2 separate regions of the Homo sapiens genome follow, and region 1 is linked to region 2. Evidence: fine-mapped expression QTL. Tissue or cell type: cerebral cortex. Region 2 holds a variant in brackets; the other region holds the start of a gene. All regions are shown on one strand. Distances are from middle to middle. Region 1 holds the start of LINC02798 (long intergenic non-protein coding RNA 2798). Region 2 overlaps LINC02798 (long intergenic non-protein coding RNA 2798).

What was found.
Region 1: LINC02798 starts here. The variant in region 2 is fine-mapped to the expression of LINC02798 in cerebral cortex (GTEx, PIP 0.90).

What each region holds. Positions count from the first base shown.
Region 1 is chr1:121,393,289-121,397,678 of GRCh38, forward strand. It overlaps LINC02798 (long intergenic non-protein coding RNA 2798), which reads left to right and starts at 2,284. Exons shown (of 2, transcript XM_047438024.1): 1 at 2,284-4,016. The coding sequence starts at 2,596. The coding sequence ends at 3,639. SRGAP2-AS1 (SRGAP2 antisense RNA 1) reads right to left here. Exons shown (of 4, transcript NR_104189.1): 2 at 4,193-4,378. RefSeq lists a silencer at 2,361-2,655.
Region 2 is chr1:121,436,149-121,440,538 of GRCh38, forward strand. All of the region lies in intron 1 of LINC02798 (long intergenic non-protein coding RNA 2798), which reads left to right. Among named protein-coding and RNA genes, the nearest start is that of SRGAP2-AS1, 40 kb to the left of the region's middle. The variant G/T (reference allele first, on the strand shown) is at 2,098.

The sequences.
Region 1 (4,390 bases), 43 kb before region 2:
GTGTAGAATAAATAGGTTATGTGAGCAAATAAATTGGGAGGCTACTCTAATCCAGCGAAAAAAGGTAGTGACTTAGGTGAGAATGCTGTCAGCATGAGTGGTAGTAGTGGTGAGAAGTCGTTAGGCCATGGATGTATTTCATAGGACTGGCCAAGAGAACTGCAGCTAAATTGGAGTGTAGGGAGTGAAATAGAGAACTCAAAGATGACTCTCAGCAATGGAAGGTGACAGCTGTCACTGAAGCATGCTGATGCCTCTTATTAAGAGAGTTACTTGGGAATGGCAAGATCAAAACTTCTCACTTTCAAATTTATGAAAAATATTGTTTTCAGAATGAGTGACTTTGGGATCAGAAAGCCACCATTCTAATTGATGGTTCCACGACTACACGGGCTCACACTCGCAAGAGCAAAAGTAAATCATCACAAAGGTGCTTCTTGATAATTCTAGAGAATGGAGAATTACTGTAACATCTTTCTGATTTTAGGAGAGGTAGCAGTTCCCTTTTTAGCCTAAACGCTATTTCTTTTTAAAGCTCAGCCAAGAGACTCCATTATAATTTTCAAATGTGTGTAACTTAAATTCTCATATGAAATACCACTATGCTTAAATTAGTCAAAACATTTTCCCCATCTACAACTCTATCTTGTCATTGTAATCATTTTCACAAAAGTGACTGCAGCTCTCAGACCCTAAAAAGAGAAAATCCAGGGTAGTTTATCTGATCTAGTTAGTTTCGAAGACAGGATCTAGAGATTATTTAATATGAAATGGGTCACCTGAAATGAAGTGTTTACTGAAAACAGCTTGGATCAGCCCAGTTTTCTACCACTGAACCATGCATTTGGTTTAAAAAACACAACAACTCTGGGGAATATCGGCTGCTTCCAACTGTGTTGAAGGTGTTAAAGAAAAGAGCATAAAATTAAAAATGATCATCTGAGGCCTTTATAGTCTCTGCTCAAGAGACTAGAGTTTTCCATTCTTAACTAAACACCCAAATATCTTAATAATTGGGCAAAATCTAAATATCAGAGATAATTTTATCTTGAAGATTGTTAAATTATAATGGTGATTCACTAGCTTGCCACGTCTCTGAGTCAAAAATTAGGTCTTTGTTTAGGAATCAATCATAATCTGCAATTTGGAAATAGGAAGATTTTAGAAGACTCAGACATTGACTTTCTTCTGTGCAAAAAAAAAAGACGTATTGAGATAAGACAAGTCTTTCCTTGCAAGGATACCTCTAATGCTCATACACCACCTCCCCTAACATTAATAGAGCTTCCAGGTCACTAACCAGTGTCAGAGAGCAGCCCATGCAACTAGAAATTCAAAAGATGTCGAACATAGGGTCAAGCTTAGAATAAGACGTCTTAGCTAATTAAGTATGCTTTTTTCCCGAAATTCATATTAACAAAATCTTGGATATGTCAGAGAATGCATTCTAAGTTCACTCAACCTAGGAGGGAGAAACATAATTTTAAATTAAGAGCTGAAGCATTCTTGTCCTAACACAAAGCAAGGAAAACGAAATATCACACCACAGGAGGGATTTCACAAATTTGCGTCAACATCAAAACCTTAAAATAGGCAAGGAGAATGCAGATTCACAATGAACTCTTGTACTTGTTTTGTTCAGAGGAGAGATGGTTCTGAGAGAATGACAGTGAACTAACCCCAGCTGGTTTAGTTGGTGCTTTCAACTACTGCTTCTGATCAACTCCTTTAGCTAGAATAAATTGATGAGGATTTTGGCATGTGGTATTAGAGATGGTTATTAATTTTTTCCTCTTATTTGCATTGTTCAATATAGTAAATACTAGCTGTATATGGCTACTTCAATTCAAATTAATTACAATGAAATATACTTAAATATTGAATTTCTTAGTCACTCTTGGTTCATTATTGAATATCTTCAGCTAAGATTTCCCAACTAAAGACACTAAGAGGTGGCTTAGTTAACTGGTCATCCACAAATATTGAAGCTGCTGTTAACTCCTGATATATTCTCTGCAAGGAGAATACTCATAAGCCTCCTCCTGAAATCAGCAGCCTAGAGATAGTTTTATAAACTGGATACAAGTTGGAAATCTATATACTCTTTAAGTGTTTGAAATATTAGCTTCCCAGGGAAGAAAATCAAATTCATAAGATATGCTAGGACAATTTAACTCAAGATGTTCAAAACTGAAATGACATATTCTACAACATGTGATAAAACCACCCCCTAACAACTTAAAGCAAAACAGGGATGGACCTTAAAGACCTGCCTTTTCCTCATCCCCCAGCCAATCAGTTTTCAAATCTTGCATTTTATTTTGAAAGGTCCCTATCCCCCTGGTCTCTTGTTTCTAGACTTGGCACATATTTAAGTTTGTTACCTCTCTCTACTGACTTTTCTCTCTTCAAACAGTATCTATGCCTGCCAAATGTGAACGTACAAGAAACAAATCAGAATGTGTCATTCTGATTTAAACTGCTTATTAGTTAATACCCTCAAGATAACATCTGGGTTCTTAGCTTCAATGAGTCAAGCCTACTTACATCTTTTTGTCTTTGGCTGCTCATTTCCTATCACATCGCACTCCAGCAATGCCAAGCTGTGCCGGCCTTCCACTCCATCTCCATTATTTCGCCCTCCACCGCCGCCGCCACGGCTTTTTGCCCCCCCGCCGCCGCGGCTTATTCCCCCCACCCCGCCTCGGCTTTTTGCCCGCCGCTGCTTTGTGCCCCCCCGGCGCCAGGGCTTTTAGCCCGCCGCGGCTTTTTGACCCCTTGCCGCTGCGAATTTTGCCGCCGCGGCTTTTTGTCCCCCGCCGCTTTTTGCACCCCGCCGCTTTTTGCACCCCGCCGCTTTTTGCCCCCCCCGCCGCCGCGGCTTTTTCCTCGCCGTGGCTTTTTCCCCCCTGCCCCCACGGCTTTTTACCCGCCGCGGCTTTTTGTCCCCTGCCGCCGCGACTTTTTGCCCCCCGCCGCCGCGACTTTTTGCCCCCACCCCGCCTCGGCTTCTTGCCCGCCGCGGCTTTTTACCCCCCGCCGCCGCGGCTTTTTGCCCGCCGCGGATTTGTGCCCCCCTCGCCGCCGCGGCTTTTTGCCCGCCGCGGCTTTCTGCCACACACCCGCCGCCGCGGCTTTTTGCCCCTCCGCCGCCGCGGCTTTTTGCCCCCACCTTGCCTCGGCTTTTTGACCGCCGCGGCTTTTTGCCCCACCACCGACACAGCTTTTTGCACACTCGTCGCCTTGGCTTTTTGCCGCCGCGGCTTTCTGCCCCCTCGCTGCCGCGGCTTTTTGCCCCTCCGCCACCGCCGCTGCTTTTTGCCCCACCGCCGCCGTGGCTTTTTGCCCGCCGCAGCTTTTTGCCATCGCGGCTTTTTACTCGCCACGGCCTTTTACCCGCCACGGCTTTTTGCGCCCCGCTGTCACGGCTTTTTGCCCCCCTGCCGCAGCGACTTTTTCGCCGCCGCGGCGTTTTGCCCCCGCCGCCACGGCTTTTTGCCGCTGTCGCCGCCGCTTTTTGCCCCCGCCGCCGCGGCTTTTTGCTGCCGCGACTTTTTGCCCCGGTCGCCGCCGCTTTTTGTCACCGCGACTTTTTGCCCCCGCCACCGAGGATTTTTGTCCCCGCCGCCACGGCTCTGAGGGCAGGAGCGGCAGACTCGGCTGCCAGCTCTACTGGCGTCCTGGCAAGGGCAGCGCCGAGGGGTGCTCCTGGTCCAGCTCTCCTGGCTCAGGGATTCTTTGCCTAGGCGCCGGCGCCCCGGGCTCCTTGCCTAGGCCCCTGTGGCCTGCATAGAGTGGCGCTGCCTGTGGAGGCGGTGGGAGAGAAGAAGGAGGGCGGTGGTGGGGGTGATGCGGCGGCCACGGAGGGTGGCACAGGGGCTGCGGCCAGCCGGGCGCTGCAGCAGTGCGGGCAGCTCCAGAAGCTCATCGTCATCTTCATTGGCAGCCTGTGCGGGCTGTGCACCAAGTGCGCTGTGTCTAACGACCTCACCCAGCAGGAGATACAGACCCTGGAGGTAAGGGGTTCGGGGACCCGGGCTGGGCTCCAGGAGCGGCCCGGACACCTCCTTCGGGGGCCCCAGTTCACTCCTGGCCGAGTTGCATCTTTGAGCCCACGTCACCCCCTTGGAGGCTTCCCCTCCCTCCTGCACTCGCTGATGCGGCAGCCAGAGGACCCAGGACCAGCCCTCACCTTGGGCAGGATTTGTGGAGCGGGTGCGTGGTGGGAACTGGGATGGAGGCTCCAGGGTCCCGTGGGGGTGGGGGTGGGCTGCGTGAGGACATCCCCTTACCCCCTGAATTTCCATCTGGTCCAGCCCTCTCATCTTGTAGGTGAGGAAACCGAAGGCCCGAGGGAGAAATGACTTGCCAGGAACCCCTGTTAAGGAAA
Region 2 (4,390 bases):
TGTCTGGCAGCAGACTTTTCCAAGGAAACCTTTCAGCCTGGGAGAGAGTGGCATGACATATTGAAAATGCTGAAGGAAAAAACTTTTACCCTAGAATAGCTTATCTGGAGAAAATTTCCTTTAAACGTGAAGGAGAAATAAAGACTTTCCCAGACAAACAAAAGCTGAGGGATTTCTGGGGGATTTCATCAACACCAGACCTGTGCTGCAAGAAATGCTAAAGGGAGTCCTTCAATCAGAAATAAAAGGACATTAATGACCAATAAGTAATCACTTGAATGTATAAAACTCACTGGTAATAGTAAGTACACAGAATATCATAACACTGTAACTGTGGTGTGTAAACTACTCTTATCCTAAGTAGAAAGACTAAATGATGAACCAATAAAAATAATAACTACAACAACTTTTCAAGACATAAGCAGTACAGGCTGGGCACGGTGGCTCACGCCAGGAGCACTTTGGGAGGCCGAGGTGGGTAGATCACCTGAGGTCAGGAGTTCAAGACCAGCCTGACCAGCATGGAGAAACCCTGTCTCTAGTAAAAATACAAAACTAGCCAAATGTGGTGTTACATGCCTGTAATCCCAGCTACTCAGGAGGCTGAGGCAGGAGAATCACTTGAACCCAGGAGGTGGAGGTTGCAGTGAGCCGAGATGGCACCATTGCACTCTAGCTTGGGCAACAAAAGTGAAACTCCGTCTCAAAACAACGACAACAACAAAAAAAGACAAAGGAAGTACTATATGATATAAATAAAACAACAAAATAAAGTGTAGTTTTTGTTAGTTTTCTTTTTGCTTGTTTGTTTATCCAAGCAGCGTTAAATTGTTATCAGGTTAAAATAATGGTTTATAAGATAGTATTTGCTAGCCTCGTGGTAACCTCAAACCAAACAACATACAATGGATACCAGAAAATAAAAAGCAATAAACTAAATCATATCACCAGAGAAAATCACCTTTACTAAAGGAAGAGAGAAAGGAAGGAAAGAAGGAAGAGAAGACCACGCACACACAAAAAGACACAGAAAATAAATAACAAAATGGGAGGAGTAAGTAAGTCCTTACTTATCATTAATAACATTGAATGTAAATGGACTAAATTATCCAATCAATAGACAACAGCCAATGATCTGTTGTCTACAAGAAACACACTTTAGCTTTAAAGATACACATAGACTTAAAGAACTGAAAAAGATATTCCATGCCAATGAAAACCATAAAAGAACAGGAGTAGCTGTACTTACATCAACAACTATAGACAAAAACTATAAGAAGAGACAAAGAAAGTCACTATATCATGAAAAAGGGGTCAATTCAACAAGATGATATAACAATTGTAAATATATATGCACCCAACACTGGAGCACCCATATAAAGGAAATATTATTAAACCTAGAGAGAGAGAGAGAGAGAGACATAGGTCCCAATATAATAAAAGCTGGAGACTTCCACACCCCACTTTCAGCATTGGACAGATCTCCCAGACAGATAATGAACAAAGAAATATCAGAGTTAATCTATATTATAGACCAAATAGATCTAGTAGATAGTTATAGAACATTTCATCCACGAGCTGCAGAATACACATTATTCTCCTCAGCACATGAATTATTTTCAAGGAGAGACCATATGTTAAGTCACAAAACGAGCCTTAAAACATGCTAAAAATTGAAATAATATCAAGCATCTTCTCTGATCACAATGGAATAAAACTAGAAATTAATAACAAGAGGAATTTCTGAAACTATACAAACATAGAAATTTAACATATGCTCCTGAGTGACCAGTGGGGCAATGAAGAAATTAAGAAGGAAATTGAAAAATTTCTTGAAAGAAATGATAATGGAAACACAACATACCAATATCTATGGGATATAGTAAAAGCAGTGCTAAGAGAGAAGTTTATAGCTATAAATGCCTACATCAAAAAAGAGGAAAAACTTCAAATAAACAATCTAATGCCGTATCTTAAAGAACTAGAAAAGCAAGAGAAAACCAAGTCCAAAATCAGTGAAGAAAAGAAATAATAAAGATCTGAGCAGAAATAAATAAAATTGAAAACCATAAAAAAGATCAATGTAACAAAAAGTTG[G/T]TTTTTTTATAAAGTTAAACAAAATTGGCAAACCTTTAGTTAGACTAAGAAAAAAAGGGAGAGCATTCAAATAAATAAAACCAGAAATTGAAAAAAGAGACATTACAACTGAATCTGCAGAAATTCAAAGGATCATTAGTGGCTATTATGAGCAATTATATGCCAATAAATTGGAAAATCTAGAAGAGATAGTCAAATTCCTAGATACATACAACCTACCAAAATTGAACCAAGAAGAAATCTAAAACCTGAACAGACCAATAACAAATAACAAGGTCAAAGCTGTCATAAAATATCTCCCAGTAAAGAAAATCCCAGGACCCAATGACTTTACTGCTGAATTCTACCAAACATTTAAAGAAAAACTAACACTAATCCTAGTCAAACTTTTCCAAAAAAAAAGAGGAGGAAGGAATACTTCCAAACTTATTCTATGAGATCATTTTTACCCTAATACCAAAATGAGACAAAGACACATCAAAAAAAAGAAAAGTACAGGCCAATATCTCTGATGAATATTCATGTAAAAATCCTCAACAAAATGCTAACAAACCAAATTTAACAATACATTAAAAAGATCATTCATCACGATAAAGTGGGACTTATCCTTGAGATGCAAGGAAGATTCGAAATATGCAAGTCAATCAATGTGATACATCGTATCAACAGAATACAGAATAAAATCCATATGATCATTTCAATTGATGCTGAAAAACTATTGAATAAAGTTCAACATTCCTTCATGATAAAAAAGAAACCCTCAGAAAACTGGACATAAGAGGAATGTACACAACATAATAAAAACCATATGTGACAGACCCACAGCTAGTATCATATTTAATATAGAAAAACTGAAAGCCTTTCCTCTAAGATCTGGAACACATTAAGGATGCCCAATCTCACCACTCTTATTTGACATAGTACTGGAAGTCCTAGCTAGAGCAATCAGACAAGAGAAAGAAATAAAGGGCATCTAAATTGGAACGGAAGAAGTCAAATTATTCTTGTTTGCAGATGATGTGATCTTATAGCTGGAAACACCTAAAGACTCCACTAATAAACTTTTAAATCTTATGAATAAATTTAGTAAAGTTGCAGGGTGCAAAGTCAACATACAAAAGTCAGTGACATTTCTATATGCCATCAGTGAACAGTCTGAAAAAGAAGTTTAAAAGTTATCCTATTTATAATAGCCACACATAAAATTAAATACCAAGGAATTAACCAAAGAAATAAAAGATCTCTGCAATGAAAACTATAACACACTAATGAAAGAAATTAAAGAGGGCATCAAAAAATGGAAAGGTATTTTATGTTCATGAATTGGAAGAATTAATATTGCTAAAATGGCCGTACTACCCAAAGCAATCTACAGATTCAATGCAATCCATGTCACAGAAATAAAAAAAAACTATTCTAAAATTTATATGGAATCACAAATTACCCAGAGTAGCTAAAGCTATCCTAAGCAAAAAGAATAAAACTGAAGGAATTACATTACCTGACTTCAAATTATACTACAGAGCTATAGTAACCAAAATAGCATGGTATTGGCATAAAAACAGGCACATACACCAATGGAACAGAATAGAGAACCCAGAAACAAATCCACACACCTATAGTGAACTCGTTTTTGACAAAGGTGCCAAGAATATAAATTGAGGAAGAGACAGTCTCTTCAGTAAATGGTACTGGGAACACTAGATATCCATATGGTGAAGAATGAAGCTAGATCTCTATCTCTTGCCACATAAAAAAATCAAATAAAAATGGATTAAAGACTTAAATCGAAGACCTAAAGCTATGAAACTACTATGAGAAAACTTTGGGGAAACTCTCTAGGACATTGGTTTGGGCAAAATTTCTTGAGTAATACCCCACAGCACTGGCAAGCGAAGTCAAAATGGACAAATGAGATCACATCAAGTTAAAAAGCTTCTGCACAACAAAGGATACAATCACAAAGTGAAGAGCACCCCACAGAATGGGAAAAAATATTTGAAAACTATCCATCTAATAAGAGATTAACAACCAGAATATGTAAGGATTCCTAACAACTCTATAAGAAAAGACTTAATACTCTGCTTAAAAAATAAGCAACAGATGGCTGGGCGTGTTGGCTCATGCCTGTAATCCCAGCGTTTTGGGAGGCCTAGGTGGGCGGATCACCTGATGTTGGGAGTTTGAGACCAGCCTGACCAACATAGAGAAACCCCGTCTCTACTAAAAATACAAAATTAGCCAGGCATGGTGGCACATGCCTGTAATCCCAGCTACTCGGGAGGCTGAGGCA